2 separate regions of the Homo sapiens genome follow, and region 2 is linked to region 1. The links come from fine-mapping of genetic effects on gene expression. A gene starts in region 1. The other region holds a variant in brackets. All regions are shown on one strand. Distances are between the middles of the regions.

Region 1 (8,337 bases):
CGGGATTTTGGGTCCATGGATAAAACGTGTCTCCTTTGTCTCTACCAGAAAATGAAAGGAATTGAAATTAAGAGAAGGGAGAGATTGAAGTGTGGTGCCAAGATTGAATGGAGAAAGAGGTTGAGGGATAGTGAGGGAGGTTGGAGAAGAGAGTAAAAACAGGCTGCTTAGCGGATTTAAAATTGGTGAGATGTTCCTTGGGCTGGTGGGTCTGAGGACCCGAGGTCATAGGTGGATCTTTTTCACGGAGCAAAGAGCAGGAGGAAAGGGGATTGATCTCCCAAGGGAGGTCCCCTGATCCTAGTCATGGCACCAAATTTCATGTGCATCCATGTGAAGAGACCACCAAACAGGCTTTGTGTGAGCAACAAGGCTGTTTATTTCACCTGGATGCAGGCAGGCTGAATCCGAAAAGAGAGTCAGCAAAGGGAGATAGGGGTGGGGCCGTTTTATAAGATTTGGGTAGGTAAAGGAAAATTACAGTCAAAGGGGGGTTGTTCTCTGGCGGGCAGGAGTGGGAGTCACAAGGTGCTCAGTAGGGGAGCTTTTGAGCCAGGATGAGCCCGGAGAAGGAATTTCACAAGATAATATCATCAGTTAAGGCAGGAACAGGCCATTTTCACTTCTTTTGTGGTGGAATGTCATCAGTTAAGGCAGGAACCAGCCATCTGGATGTGTACGTGCAGGTCACAGGGGATATGATGGCTAAGCTTGGGCTCAGAGGCCTGACAGTCACATTCAGAGCTACTGGGGCTTAGGCATTCACATGTTTTTCATATGTTTTTGGTAGGACACTTGAACCCATAACACTCTCTTGAGAGTTTATCATGAGGATTGAATGTGGTAATGCATGTAAAGCTGTGATCACAGTGCTTGGCTGGCACTTCATTCCATAAATTACTTTTGAAAGAAAAAATTGGCTGGGCATGGTAGCTCATGCCTGTAATCCCAGCACTTTAGGAAGCGGAGGTGGAAGCATCACTTGAAGCCAGGAGTTTGAGACCAGCCTGGGCAACATAGTGAGACCCCTGTCTCTACAAAACAATAAATAAAAATGGCTGAGTGTGGTGGCACACGCCTAGTAAATCCTAGCTCCATCCAGAGACTGAGGCTGGAGGATCGCTTGAGCCTAGGAGGTCAAGGCTGCAGTGAGCTGTGATCACACCACTGCACACCAGCCTGGGTGATACAGTGAGAGCCAGTCTCAGAAAAGAAAAAGGAAGAAGCTGAGCACCTGGAAATTAGATGCTCTATGTACATTGTGTGCCAGGCCCCATTTAAGTGCTTGATGTGTATTATCCCACCAAATCCTCACAACCACCCCTCAAGCCAGGCAAGGTTTTCATTTAAATGATGTGGAAGCTGTGACTGAGAGAGGTTAAGGCATTTGCCTGAAGTCACACAGCCTAAGTGGCAGAGCTGAGGATCAGCCTGAAGCCTATGAGGCTCCACCTCATCACACTACATAGGACTGTGCTGTAGTGTGGAGTGGGGGCTGCTTGGAGGGGCAGAAAGCCAGGGAGGAAATGCTGAGCACACAGCACACAGGCCCTGGGGGGCTTTCTGGGTCTGAGGGACCTGGAATGAGTCTCTGCGATAGTGAGAGGCCTAGCTGATGGCAGGCTGCCTGGGGAGGTGCTGGCGAGCTGCCAGGGTGCAGGGCCAACAGGTCTGAGCCACTCCACTGTGACCTAACCGGCCTGGCCGATACTGCAGGTGGGGGGCTGGGACAGGGCTCAGCCGGGGGTGAGGAATGTTGCCCTGAGCGTGGGTACACTCACTTCTCCAGGCTTCATTCTGAGTATACGCGCGGCTCTCCCGGAAGCGAAGAGGGCACTTCCTTACAGAGGCTTGAAAGTGTGGTCATCCAAGATTCAGGCCACTCTCTCTTCCTTCCTGCTTTCTTCTGAAAGGTTCCTTGCACCTAAGGAAGGTAACAATGAACTATGTTTTCAGTCTGGACTAGAAGTTCATTTACCCAGGTACTAACTTGTTTACTCACTCAAGCATTTATTCATTCATTCACTCATTTACTCTTCCCCCCATTCACCTAATGGCTCACTGATTCATTCATTCACTCATGCTCTCACATATTCATGCCCACAGCCATTCACTCTTCCACCTACCCATCCACCTACCCATCCATCCATCCATCCATCCATCCATCCATCCACCCATCAAACCAACCATCAACCTCTTATTCAATTGCCTTCCCATTCATCCCTTCTCTCATCCCCCATTTTCCCAACCAATCTTTCATTCTTTCTTCCATCTATCTATGCATCCATCTATCCATCCATCCACCCAACCTTTATTAAGCACCTACCATGTTTCCCACCCAAAACTCCCTATGGCTCCCAAAGTAGTTCTGCACCCACTTCGGCTGACAATTCACCTACATATTGGACCCCAGCTCCTTGGCCTCACAGTGGCATGGTTCCCTTGTCTCCTCCTCAGGAGGAGGCTCAGGAGAAGTGGATGGGTGGTCTTCTGCACAGCCCTGGTCTGCAGGTTCCAGCCAGTGACAGCCACCTGAAACTTGGGGTTTTTCAGGACCCTTTGTGTTGCGAGGCCTTTCCCGTCTTTAATGCCAGAACCATGCATGCTCCTGGGCTCTATGGCTCCCGTGGGGCCCTGTTTTCAGTTTCTTGGGGCCCATTTCTTGCCTCCCTAAGGCCAGAACAGAGCTTCAGACTGTGGGGACCCATAGACTTGGGGGCCCTCCTTGATGAGGACTCTGGGGCCTCTCTTCTTGGAGTACAGGTGAATATGCTTCCTGGAAAGATTCACTGACACCCGGAGGCTTAGAGGAGGGCAGGGCGGGCCCGGGCAATCTGGGGAAGTCTATGGCATTCAGTCCTGGCCAGAGGGCAAGAGAAGGGGCTCATGGTCCAAAATGGATGCAGGGAATAGGACACCGCCAGGGAAGCTGGCAGGAGCGCTTCTCATACGTTCCCCAAATGCCCTACTGCAACACCTTGGCTTGTGTCCTTGTTGGCACCTGGAAACCCCTTCCCACTCCCCACCCTGACACTCAGCCTCTGCTCTCCTCTCAGCTGAGTCCACACTCTCCTGCTCTTTGCTTTCAGACACTCTGGTCGCCTTCCCCCAGGGCCCCTACAGAGCTCCATAAAGATTTGCTAAGTGAATGAATGAGTTCTCATTTTACAGAAGAGGGGGTTAAATTCCCTGGGTTTTCCCCTTACCCAGCCTTTCCCCAGCTAGTTCCTCCTCCTTTACATCCCAGCCAAAAGACCAATCCCGGGAGGCTCTCCGGACGCCCCCTCACTTTGCCACTCCCATTTCCTGCTCCCTTCCTATCCTCCCGCCCCCGTGCCCAGGTCCTGCTCTCTTTACACCCTGACATCTTCCTGCTTGCTTTTTTCCTGTCTCCTGGCAAATGTCACCATCCCCATTTCACAGAGGAGGAAACCGAGGCTCAGAGAAGCCTCAGAGGGAATAGCCCAGCCAGATAAAAACCCCTGGGTCGTGAGCACGTTCTTCCACCCATAGTAGCCAGGTGCTTTATTCATGTGGTTTTACTCTGAAATCGGGATGGCTGTAGGTAATAATAGTGGCCATGCAAATCATATTTCATGACAGTTTTTGAAAGGCGCCGTTTCCACCTCGCAGTTCCAGTGCAGGCGGGTGGGACTCAGTGGTGTGTGTGTGTGCGGCGAGTGCCTGCCTGTAGGTGGCCCCGGCCAAGCCAGCCCCGCCCCAGGAGGAGGCTGAACATTAGTCCTGCATGAGGGTGTCTGGGAACTGGGTGCGCCACGGGGGCCCTACCTCACTCCTCCCTCTCACATTGCCGATCGAGTCAGCCCCACGGCGGCAGCACCACGACCGACCGGGATCCTCGAGGTGCCAGCCCATGGCCGAGCCTGCCCTCCTCCCCGCCGCCCAGATGGAGAGGCTGGCCCCAGGGCCCCTAGCCTCACCGTGTCCTCGGATCCCGCGGGCCCGCATTGCCAGGCGCTGCGCCCAGCGCTGGGCCGACCTGGGCTGCAGGTACAGGGGTCACGGGAGCGGGAGGGAAGTTGGCCCTACTATGCACCAGGGGCATGTGCGGTCTGTCTTCACAACATCCCTGTGAGGCAAGAATCTTCCTCCATCGTACAGATGAGGAAACAGAGGCTTGGAGAGCCCGGTCACCTGGCTGTCAAGTGGTGGAGATGGCTTTTAGCCCTAGTCCATGGGACTCCAAACCCAGAGCCTTCCTGGGACACAGCATTGCCCTGGGTTCAGGCTACTGGCCTCCTGCAGGGGTCACTGATTTTCAGATTCTTAGAGACCGTGAGTGACGCCAGTATGTGCCATTTCCTCTTCCTCTGGGTGTAGAGTCTTAGGGGGCCCAGGGGCTCAAGATTCAGGAGTCTCTGGGTCAAGTTTCTGGGTCAGTGTGGCCGTGTGGTCACCTCGGCTGAGAACTGGTCACCCCTTATTCCTGCTCAGCCTGCCACTGACAGCCAGACCAGAATTTTCAAATAGTCATTTCCCCCACTCTGATTACATCATATTACAATTTGATTATTATAGAAAGTCAAACAGTGCAGGAATACTGTACAGGAATACATATGTTCATTCTTGAAAACTTACTACTGTTAAAGTTTTGACATATACCTTGGGAGAACTTTTTGACATATGTAAACCTAAACTTGTATAGTTTTACACAAATAGGCTCTTGTGTTACATGTGCTTGTAAGGTTTTCCCCTGCAACCCCTCAATTAATGTTATGGACATATTTACATGTCAGTAACATAAAGATCCAATTCATTCACTTTAGTGGCCTGCCAGGATCCAACTTTATGGATATCTTTGGTTAATTTGAATCAGTTCCTGGCTAATGGACATTTAGGTTGGTTCCAATTTTTAACGATTCTAAGCAATACAGCAATGAACATCTCTGGGGACTTGCATGGGTAAAATTCACATCCTAGACTTGTAGTTGCAAGTTTAAAAGGAATGTTAGAATCTGAATAGACCCTGCCCTCCAAAAGTGTTCTAGCTTGGAACACACCTGCAGCAGGAGACCCCCATTGCCCCATTCATTTGCCACCCAAGGACCTGAAGACTAGACGTGGTCTGTACTCAGAAAGCAGATTCAGGGAGCAGGTGATCCTGATCGTAGGACAACTGAGTCCTAGAATTCCCTTAAGGGAACAACTTCTAGGCTCAGGAAAGGGAGGGGGAGCTTAGTGAGACCATTTCATTCATACAGCATGTTCGCTGAGCTCCTATGTGCGTGGGGCTCTGCCCCATCACAGGCAAAAATTACTCAGGATAGGATTTTAATAAGAATCAATTTTAAGAAGCCAAAGACAAGTTTGTTTATCTGTCTATCTATCTATCTATCTATCTATCTATCTATCTATCTATCTATCTATCTATCTATTCTATATCTAATCTATCCATCTATCTATCTATTCTGTATCTAATCTATCTATCCATCTATCTATTCATCTATCTATGTTTCCTATTGCTGCTATAACAAATCACATAAGCTTATCTATCATCTCTCTCTCTGTCTCTCTCTCTCATTTATATTAGTTTTCTATTGCTGCTATAACAAATCACATAAACTTAGTAGCTTAAAACGACACAAATGTGTTATCTGACAGTTCTGAATGCTGGAAATCCCCAAATCGAGGAGTCTGTAGGGGTGCATTCTGTCTGGGGGCTCTAGCAATCTGTTTCCTTGCCTTTTCCAGCTTCTGCAGCTGCCCACATTCCTTGGCTGATGGTCCTCTTCCGTCTTCAAAGGCAGCTCTGTAACATCTTCACACATCTCTCTGACTCTGACCTCCACAGTCATCCCCATGTCTCCTTCTCTGACTCTCCTGCCTCCCTCTTTCATTGATAAGGATCCTTGTGATGACATTGGGCCCACTGGCTAATCCAGGATCGTCCCCCCAACTCAAGATCCTTAGCTTAATCACATATGCAGAGTCCCTTTGCCTGATAACATATATTCACAAATACTGAGGATTAGGATGTGGACATCTTGGGGAGCTGTTATTCAGCTGATCACACCATCTATCCAACCATGCGTCGTCCGTCCATCCATCTATCTACCTATCTACCTACCTATTATGGCTGTTCCCCTGACTCCACCACCACCCTCCCTTAATCTCCTGGTTCCTTGTGATCTTTGAGGCAATTAATATTGAATTCACTATAAGAGCTCGTGACCCATTGAATGTGCTTAATAGCTACTGGTTGAATGAACAGATGAAAAATACTTAAGAGAGTTTAAAATTTGAACCATTCTGTTTATTACTGAAAACAAAACAACAAAAGCAACATTTTTACTTCCAGAACAGTGGTGTTTTTTTTTTTTTTTTGAGATGGAGTCTCACTCCGTTGCCCAGGCTGGAGTACAATGGCACGATCTCGGCTCACTGCAACCTCCGCCTCCCGGGTTCAAGTGATTCTCCTGCCTTAGCCTCTTGAGTAGCTAGGATTACAGGCGTGCGCCACCACGCCTGGCTAATTTTTGTATTTTCAGTAGAGATGGGGTTTCATCATGTTGGTCAGGCTGGTCTCGAACTCCTGAGCTCATGATCCACCCGCCTTAGCCTCCCAAAGTGCTGGGATTACAAGCGTGAGCCAATGCGCCTGGCCCAGAACAGTGGTTTTTAAACCAGGGTTCTGCAAACATTTTATTTGAATTTAATTTTTATTATATCTTTCAAGTATTAAACATCTAGTAAAAATACTACCTCCACTCAGGTATCCCAAATGTTTTTTGTCAACTAAAATTATCTTGATTGTATGATCAGTAAATGCTTTAAATTAAACTTATAAAATCAGCTTATAATAATATCACCGTTACCTCTTTTGTTTATTGAGAAGACATTCCACTGCCAAAGAAAAAAAAAAAAGCGAAAACTACTTCCCTGGAACAAGGTTGGTCTGTTTGCTCCAGGCTAATGTTCTTGTGTATTGGCTCACAAGGTCACTAGGTCAGCTCCCCCAATCCTTTGAGTCTGTTCATCTCACTGGTCCCTTGCTTGTGAGTCATTTAGTTATTCAACAAATTCCAGCAGGACGGCAACCTTCAGGATGTAAGCCCGGATCTGTTCTGTTTACCCACAGCTCTCCAGCACTGGCACAGGGCTGGCTTGTTGTAGGTGTTCATGAAATATTTCCCTGATGAATGAAATGCTCACTGCCTCTACATGAAGTCCTGTGATGGATATGAGGGTGTGGGCATGAATAAGATGCTCTCTCAGCCCTTAAGATGTCCACAGGCTGGTCCAGGAGGAAGACATAACACTGGTCACTACCACATAATACACTAAATGCTGACCTGAAAGGCCTGAGCAGGGATGAATAGAGTCAATGTTGTCATCAAACAGAACATCCCATAATGTGAGGGGGACACCGAATTCACTGTCTATGTGGACTTCATCTTAAAACCATGCAATATTGGCCTTGGGAGGTGCCTCAAAGACCCAGTTGGAGTGAGGTGACTCTGTTGGGATTCCCCTTATCCTTGCTCCCTGTAGAAATATATTTTCTGTTAATTCATGATTGGTATAAAAATGCAAAAAAAGTAGCAAGTGAAATCCACCTGCCCCTCCCACCTCCAACCCACAAGAACAGCAATTGTGAGAAGTTAAGTGTACATCCTATAGGATTTTGTGCTTCATAAATATTTACATACATGTATACGTAAAATGTATCTATGATCCAATCCATGCACATAATTGTACTTACATACGTGAATTGGTTTGTATTATGTATACTATTTTATAAATGACATTTCCATCTTTATAATATCTTTTCCTGGAAAGACATAGAAATCAACATTATTCTTTTTTTTTCTTTTGGAGACAGAGTCTTGCTCTATTGACCAGGCTGAGGCTGGAGTGCAGTGGTGGAATCACTGCAGCCTCAACCTCCCAGGCTCAAGTGATCCTGGGACCACAGGCATGCACCACCACGCCTAGCTATTTTTTTCATTTTTGTAGAGACAGGGTCTCCCTATGTTGCTCAGGCTTGTCTCAAACTCCTGGACTCAAGCAATCCTCCTGCCTCAGCCTCCCAAGTAGGTGGGACTACAGGCATGTGCCACCACACCTGCCCTTACGTTATCCTCTTTAAAGACTGTGTGATGTTTCATTTTATGACTGGACAGTACTTTTGTTAACTAGCCTCCTGTTGATGGAATTTTAGGTTGCTTCTTTTTCTCTTTTGGTTGCTATTATAAACTATACTGCAATGTTCTTGGACATATATCTTTGTGTACTTATGATACATTTTCAGAATAGGAATCATGGAGTCCAAAGGTGTATACATTTAAAATTCTGAAACATATTCTGGGTGGTTTT
Region 2 (8,337 bases), 27 kb after region 1:
TAGTCTCATGCAGTGCCTCCAAGTGTAAATGTAAAAACATCCCTGGTTACACTAGAAGTGGTTTCAGGAGATGCCCTGCATAGGAGGTCCTCCATGTGGCCTCTCTGGAATCATGATGTGGCCAGCAATCTAATTTCCCACAATACACAGGGAGTGGAGTCAGAGTGGGTCAGAGAGAAGCCACTTTGAGCAACCAAATAAACACAGGAGCTTTTTTAGACTCACAGGGCTGAGGGATCCTGAGTGGCATGGAGCCAAGACTGGTTTTTTTTTTTCCTTTCTTTTCTTTTTATTTATTTATTTAATTTTTGAAACGGAGTTTCACTCTGTCACCCAGACTGGGGTGCAGTGGCACAATCTCAGCCCACTGCAACCTCCATCTCCTGGGTTCAAGCGATTCTCCTGCCTCAGCCTCCCAAGTAGTTGGGACTACTGGCATTCACCACCACACCCGTCTAATTTTCGTATTTTTAGTAGAGATGGGGTTTCGCCATGTTGGCCGGGCTGGTCTTGAAATCCTGATCTCAGGTGATCTGCCCACCTTGGCCTCCCAAAGTGCTGGGATTACAGGCATGAGCCACCATGCCTGGTCATCTTTTCTTTTTATTCGGACACCAACTTGAACCAGAGGGATTGTTAATAATTTATTTTTCCCATCAATGTCTACTCATGGCAGGTGATGTTGGATGCTCCATTTATGGTGGGGATCTTGTTTCCTTTTAAAATAGATGTGTTTTAGTAAAAAATGTAGCCCATGATTAAGGGGATATATTTGGTAAGGAATTTTACAGGGACAATTAGATACAGATAAAAATTATAAAGGTGGTTGGTGAATGCCTACATTTCAAGAAACAGTGGCTCATTGAAAGGATCCTGTACAAACAAAAAAATGTCTGGCATCATGATAGAATCAGTACCTCCACCAGCCAGCACAAGTCAGGAATGGACCCACAACATTGCAACTGCCCTGGAGGCATCTGTTCTGGTTCCCAAGTGCAGGGAAAGTGTTGGGGGAAGACTTGGATTATTTGCAAAACCCAGGCTGCCATAAAAGCAGTTTTGTTTGAGTTTTTAAAACACTTATTACCTTGTTGACTAACTGGGTCAACACTGGGTACAACTGTACACCCCACCAATCCTCTCACACATGTGTTCAATTTCCAGTAAGAGCTCTTGTCCATTTCCCCCATGATAAGGCCAGTGTTTCTCAAGTGTGGTCTGAAGACCCTATTGCATTAGAATAATCTGAGGAAGACATTCGAAGTGCAGATTCTCAGGCCCGAGGCCTGAACTCCTGGAACAGAATCCCTGGAGGTAAGACCCGAGATCCTGAAATCTCAACACACCCTCCCATTCCAGTTAATGGTTTTGCTATGGGACTATGAGAGTTTCCTTAGGAAGCACAGTAGAGGGGACAATTCCAACACAAATAAGGTCTTGAATATGGAGGACTTCCCAAAGGGACATCAACACCCAGCACCAACTTCCCAAGGGGACACCATGTGACCCTGTAGTGGTCTCTGCCAGATTTTGGATAAGTGGGTTCATTACTTTGGAGAGAAGTGGGTCCAAAATCTGAACATGCAGGGCCCTTCACCCACCTCTGTTTTCCAGGGATTGCTATGTTATGGGTTGACATCCATACACTGGCTAATGCTATCAGTACCCCCCACCCCGCCCCCAGTTCTCAGAAGGCTCATTAGATCTTCTCCCCCGGAGAGTCTGGTTGGTGTTAATAGGTCTCACGATCAGATATGCAGAAACTCCTGTGTCCAGGTGAGTGTGTGCTTCTATGCAGAACTTTGGTTAGCACGAGTGGCTGAGTGCAGAGCTGTGTGTGTTCATCTGGGTTCTACTTCTGTTGGCAGAAGGGGAAGCTGAATCCCAGTGGCTGCAGGACACAGGCCTGTCGGGCCTCCTTGGTGGCCTGGGCTTGGATGGTGATCACCAGGAGCTCCTGTCCACCCTGACACAGACCCAGGTGGCCGCTGTGTGCCGCCGGCTGGACATCTATGCTCGCTCAGTGCGAAGACAACACAAGACACCTGTCAGAGATGTCAGGGATGTCTTTGGGGTCTTCAATTCAGGGGTAAGTGGCATATGGGTCATTGCAGGCCCCGTCTGACTGGGATCTCTGTGCTGCCGCCACAGCCTGAGAGATGCAGTGATCCTGCTGAAGGGCTGTGTTGGTGTGTGTATGTGTGTGTTGGTGTGTGGGTGTTGGTATGTGTGTTGGTGTCTGTGTGTTGGTGTGTGTGTTGGGGTGTGTGTGTGTTGGGGTATGTGTGTTGGGGGTGTGTGTGTTGTCTGTGTTGGGGGTGTGTGTGTTGGTGTGTGTGTTTTGGGGTGTGTGTATGTTGGTGTGTGCATGTTGGTGTCTGTGTGTTGGTATGTGTGTTGGGGTATGTGTGTGTGTGTTGGTGTGTGTTGGGGTATGTGTGTTGAGTGTGTGTGTTGTGTGTGTTGGGGTGTGCGTTGGTGTGTGTGTGTTGGTGTGTGTGTGTTGGGGTGTGTGTGGGGTGTGTTGGTGTGTGTGGGGGTGTGTTGGTGTGTGTGTTGTGTGTGTGTTGGTGTGTGTGTATTCAGAGTGCAGTGGCTTGCACACGTATGTCTCCCTGCCTTCCACTATGTCCCTATGTTGCATGTAGGTCTTCATCTCCCATGCATGCCACTGCATATATGCCTGTTGCCACTGTGTGTCCTTGGGTGAGCCTGAAAGCCTAGGTTCTTTCTATATAATTGTTATTGATGCAGGGCAGGCAAGCCCCTAAATTGGGGATTAGCTCTGGAAGCTTTTGGTTTCACTCAGGAAAGAATTCAAGAGTGAGCTGGTGGTAGAAGAAAACAACACTATGGAGGCAGCAGTAATACAGTGGCGTGACTGCTGCTGCAGAGCGGGGCCACCCGATAGGCCGTGTCCAGGACAGCAGCCCAGGGGCAGGACCACCCTATAGGCTGTGTGTCCAGAGCAACAGCTCAGGAGCAGTTCTGCCTTTTAATTACATGCAAATTAAGGGGTGAGTTATTCAGAAATGTCTAGAAAAGGGGCAGTAATTTCCAGGTGTTGCCATGGCAATGGTAAACTGTCATGGCACTGTGGGCATGTCTTATGGAGAGGTGTTTTTGCCTCTTCCTTGTTTCAGCCAAAGTCCCACCTCCTACCTCATTATCAGTACAAAATCCTTTTTTTTTTTTTGAGACTGAGCCTCGCTCTGTCGCCCAGGCTAGAGTGCAGTGGCGACATCTCGACTCACTGCAAGCTCCGCCTCCCGGGTTCACGCCGTTCTCCTGCCTCAGCCTGCCGAGTAGCTGGGACTACAGGCGCCCGCCACCATGCCCGGCTAATTTTTTGTATTTTTAGTAGAGACGGGGTTTCACTGTGTTAGCCAGGATGGTCTCTATCTCCTGACCTGGTGATCCACCAGCCTCGGCCTCCCAAAGTGCTGGGATTACAGGCGTGAGCCACCACGCCCGGCTGGCACAAAATACTTTTTTATTGTCACTGTGTATCCTGCTGACACTTGAAGCCTGATAGGTTGTGGGCATCATCTTTCTTGGAGCACCTCTGAAGTGGCATAGCAGTGATTAAAACCACAGGCTTTGGAGCCAGCCAGACTTGGGCCCCAGTGCCCATTCCCCGACTTAGCAGCTGTGGGACTTTGGGCAAGTAACTCAGCCTCTCTGGGCTTCAGTGGCTCCATCTGTGAAAAGGGGTTGTGGGTGGCTTCTGTCTCCCAGGGTTGTGTGAGCATTGTCAGCTTCCCACATGAGTAATTGGGCACTGTCTGTAATTTGCATAGAAAATGTCGTCAGAGAATGG[C/G]GACTCCGGTATGAAGGGGGCCCAGCTCAGTTCCGGGGCCTCTAAGTTTCCTCCAGGTAAGTGGTCTTCATTCTCCAGGGCCCTGAGAATCCTCCAGGCTGCATAAAGGGCTGCTCTGTGAAGTAAGAGAATGTGCACACCTCCCAGCATTTCCTGCTTCCTGCTGACTCCCTGCCTTCCCTGCTCAAGGGCAGTAGGGAGGAGCCCTGAGGGGACAGGTTGGGCCCTTAAGTGAGCTGTTGCCATCAGGCCCATGGGGCTCAAGATGGGAAAATTCTCTTCCTGGGCAATTGGCCTTAGCTGGGAAATCACTTCCTGGGGCAGTGAGGGTCTTAGCTAGGAAATCATTTCCTGGGGGCAATGGGCCATAGCTAGGAAATCACTTCCTGGGCAATGAGCCTGAGCCCTAAACCTAATGATTTGATCCTGGGGCTTTGAACTTGAGCTTGGGAGCTCACTTCTTAGGACTAAGGGCCTAAGTCCCGAACCCAAGCACTTGCTTCCTGGCAGCCAGTTCTCACTGCCTTTCTCTGCTTTGTTTCCCCCGCCCCGCAGCAGCAGAGCCTGGGGGGCTGCAGGAGCAGGCTGGGAGGGAAGAAGCCTTCAACATGGACTCTGCCTACTCAGAACAAGCTGCGGTGCTCCTGCAGAGGAGCAGGCCATCCCGGGGAGGCACCTCTGCCTGGGGCAAGTGTTCCCTGCCGGTGAGGATGCTGTCCACAGGGCTGGTTGGCTAGGTCCCCCTGTGCTCAGGCACCAGCACCCATCTCTTCACACCTTCCACACTGACAGGCATCCAGCACAAAAGTTGTTAATTCATTCATTCATTTAATTCGTACCACAAATATTTACTGAGTGACCGCTGGGTATCAAGACTGGGGAGCAGGATGCTTACAGTCTAACAGTCCTGTCAGTATTGTCTCCATGCTCTTTGTTTTTATCCTTAGAAAGCCCTCCCTCCTCCAGCAAGCTCATAACTGTCCATCAACATGTTTTTCTAGTTACTTTTAAAATTAATTTTAGTGCCTGGAGTGACAGAGAGAGACCCAATATTTTAGTTCTGTTCTTTCCTCCCTCTCTCCCTCCCTCCCTTCCCTCCTCCTCCTCCTTCTTTTTTCTTTCTTTCTTTCTTTCTTTTTCTTTCTTTCTTTCTTTGTTTTTCTTTTCTTTCTCTTTCTTTCCTTTCTTTCTCCTCCCTCCTTCCCTCCCTCCCTCCCTTCCTTCCTTCCTTCTTTCCTTCCTTCCTTTTCTTCTTCCTTTCTTTCCTTCTTTCCTTCTTTTTTTTTTCTTTGAGACAAGGTCTCACTCTGTCACCCAGGCGGGAGTGCAGTGGTACCATCCCAGCTCACTGCAGCCTCAACCTCCCAGGCTCAAGCTATCCTTACACCTCAGTCTCTCAAGTAGCTAGGACTACAGTTGCATGCCACCATGCCCAGCTAATTTTTAAAATTTTTTTTAGAGTTAGGTTCTTCCTACATTGCCCAGGCTGGTCTCAAACTCCTGGGCTCAAGCAATCCTCCAGCCTCAGCCTCCCAAAGTGCTGGGATTACAGGTGTGAGCCACTGCACCTGGCCGTTCTTTTTTCCCAAAATATTCAGTTATCCCAGCATAGTTCCTTCCAAATAGGATGTAATCATTGATAGTTAGGTTTTTAAAGATTGAACTATAACTCGCTGTTAAGTGCACAGATATTTACCAGGTACAGCTTGGTGTGTATGCCCGTGTAAATACCAACAAATGAGTACAGAAACTTCCTCCCTTGCTTGATGGCTTGTAATATGGAAAAAGAAAGAAAGAAAGAAACTTCCTACCCCACCACCCCCTCAGTGCCCGCATGCCCTTCCCAGGTAATTCCTTTCCCTGCAGAATAACCACTATTCTGACTTCTCTCATGGAGTAAATATAGTCTTTCACAGTCCCTCTATTACTAAAGGAAGTGTTTCTTCTTTGACCACGTGATGATGCAGTCGATGCAATCTTAGGTAACATTTTACTGAGGGCTGCCCTGGCCCAGGGCATTGTTCCCAAGGCTTCCAGTGCCCTCATTGCTCCCTGACTATATGATAGAAAGAAAGAGAAGTAGGATCGGGCACAGTGGCTCACGCCTGTAATCCCAGCAATTTGGGAGGCCAAGGCGAGAGGATTGCTTGAGTCTAGGAGTTTGAAACCAGCCTGGGCAACATAACAATACCCCATCTCTACAAAAAATTTTTGAAATAGCCAGGTGTGATGGTGCAGGCCTGTAGTCTTAGCCACTTGGGAGGCTGAGGCAGGAGGATCACTTGTACCTGGAGGTTGAAGCTGCAGTGAGCTATGATTGCACCACTGCTCTCCAGCCTGGGCCACAGAGCAAGACCTAAAAAAAAAAAAAAAAAAAAAGAGAAGTGGCATATGTTAGTCTGTTTTTACACTGCTGATAAAGGCATGAAAGAGGTTTAATGGACTTACAGTTCCACATGGCTGGGGAGGCCTCACAATCATGGTGGAAGGTGAAAGGCACGTCTCATGTGGCAGCAGACAAGAGAAGAGAGCTTGTGCAGGGAATCTCCCCTTTTTAAAACCATCAGATCTCGTGAGACTTATTCACTATCACAAGAACAGCCTGGGAAAGACCTGCCCCCGTGATTCAATTACCTCCCACAGGGCCCCTCCCACAACACATGGAAATTCAAGATGAGATTTGGCGGGGGACATAGCCAAACCATATCATGGTGCTCAGAGAGGAGAAGTGACAGAATTGGCTCCCACAAAGGCCAGGACAGGAACACCTGGCAGCCTGACCCTGGAGCCTTCCCAACTGACCACCACTCTCTACTGCTTAGGAAACCAACCCCACCCCCTGCAGTAGCCTCTATTCCAATGTGAGAGTACTTTCACTCATTCAAATGGAATTTTCTTAGGTCCACAGCAAGTTGCAAAAACAGAACTCCCACGTACTCTGCACCTAGTTTCTCTTAGTGATAATATTTTCCATTAATCATAGTACATCAAATAACATTTATATTTATTTATTTATTTATTTAATTTTTTCTTTTTTGAAACAGTCTCACTCTGTTGCCCAGGCTGGAGTGCAGTGGCAAAACCTCGGCTCACTACAACCTCCACCCCCGACGTTCAAGTGATTGTTGTGCCTCTGCCTCCCAAGTAGCTGGGACTACAGGCATGTGCTACCACACCCAGCTAATTTTTGTATTTTTAGTAGAGACAGGGTTTCTCCATGTTGGCCAGGCTGGTCTCGAACTCCTGACCTCAGGTGATCTGCCCGCCTCAGCCTCCCAAAGTGTTAGGATTACAGGTATGAGCCACTGCACCCGGCCTAAATTTTTTTTTTTTTGAGACGGAGTCTCGCTCTATTGCCCAGGCTGGAGTGCAGTGGTGCAATCTTGGTTCACTGCAAGCTCCGCCCCCTGGGTTCATGCCATTCTCCTGCCTCAGCCCCCGAGTAGCTGGGACTACAGGCGCCCGCCACCATGCCTGGCTAATTTTTTGTATATTTAGTAGAGATGGGGTTTCACCGTGTTAGCCAGGATGGTCTCAATCTCCTGACTTCGTGATCCGCCAGCCTCGGCCTCCCAAAGTGCTGGGATTACAGGCGTGAGCCACCGCGCCTGGCCTAAAATTTTTTAATAATGAGTTTCTATTTCTAAAACATCAGAGATAATTAATATTCAACATTATCTTGTCTTTTTCTTTGACAGTGTTTCTCCATTAAATTATGAATGATGATAATAATTAATCACGCTAAAGGGCCAGGCATGGTGGCGCACACCTGTAATGCCAGCACTTTGGAAGGCCAAGGTGGGAGGATCACTTGAGGCCAGAAATTCGAGACCAGCCTGGGCAACATAGCAAGACCCCATCTCTACAAAAATTTTTTTTAAATAATTGGGTGTGGGCCAGGCATGGTGGCTCATGCCTGTAATCCCAGCACTTTGGGAGGCCGAGGCAGGCAGATCACTTGAGGTCAGGAGTTTGCGACCAGCTGGGCCAACATGGTGAAACCCCATCCCTACTAAAAATACAAAAGTTAGCTGGGTGTGGTGGTACACAACTATAATCCCAGCTACTTGGGAGGCTGAGGCAGGAGAATTGCTTGAACCTGGGAGACAGAGATTGTAGTGAGCAGAGATCACGCCACTGCACTCCAGCCTGTGTGGCAGAGTGAGACTCCGTCTCAAAAAAAAAAAAAATAGTTGGATGTGGTGGTGTGTGCCCGTAATCTTAGCTACTCAGGAGGCTGGGGCAGGAGGATCACTTGAGCCGAGTTCAAGGTTACAGTGAGCTGTGATTGTGCCCCTGCACTGCAACCTGGGTGACAGAGCAAGACTCTCCTCTGAATAATAATAATAATGCTAAAGACATCACATATTGATCTTTTACCACACACTAAGCATTATGCCAAGTACTTCACATATTTGATTTAATTTCATTCTATTAAGTTAGTGATAACTGTGTTAATAAACTAAAAAGTAGTAGTAAGTATTGAGTACTCACTATGTGTCGGGCACCATGTTTCA

Which allele goes with the higher level. Alleles are on the strand shown, and positions count from the first base shown. SD is a standard deviation of normalised expression in the study named.
As copies of C replace G in region 2, the expression in unexposed skin of the gene that starts at base 3,741 in region 1 goes up (moderate effect, 0.73 SD a copy in GTEx).

Evidence for each region.
Region 2: its variant is fine-mapped to the expression of ARHGAP40 in unexposed skin (GTEx, PIP above 0.99). The same link has a PIP of 0.9 or more in breast, esophagus mucosa, lung, prostate, stomach and sun-exposed skin.

Annotation. Positions count from the first base shown.
Region 1 is chr20:38,598,069-38,606,405 of GRCh38, forward strand. ARHGAP40 (Rho GTPase activating protein 40) reads left to right here and starts at 3,741. Exons shown (of 15, transcript NM_001164431.3): 1 at 3,741-4,011. The coding sequence starts at 3,875. RefSeq lists an enhancer at 2,322-2,863.
Region 2 is chr20:38,625,127-38,633,463 of GRCh38, forward strand. It overlaps ARHGAP40 (Rho GTPase activating protein 40), which reads left to right. Exons shown (of 15, transcript NM_001164431.3): 3 at 1,869-2,089; 4 at 3,801-3,876; 5 at 4,376-4,524. Among named protein-coding and RNA genes, the nearest start is that of ARHGAP40, 27 kb to the left of the region's middle. The variant C/G (reference allele first, on the strand shown) is at 3,821.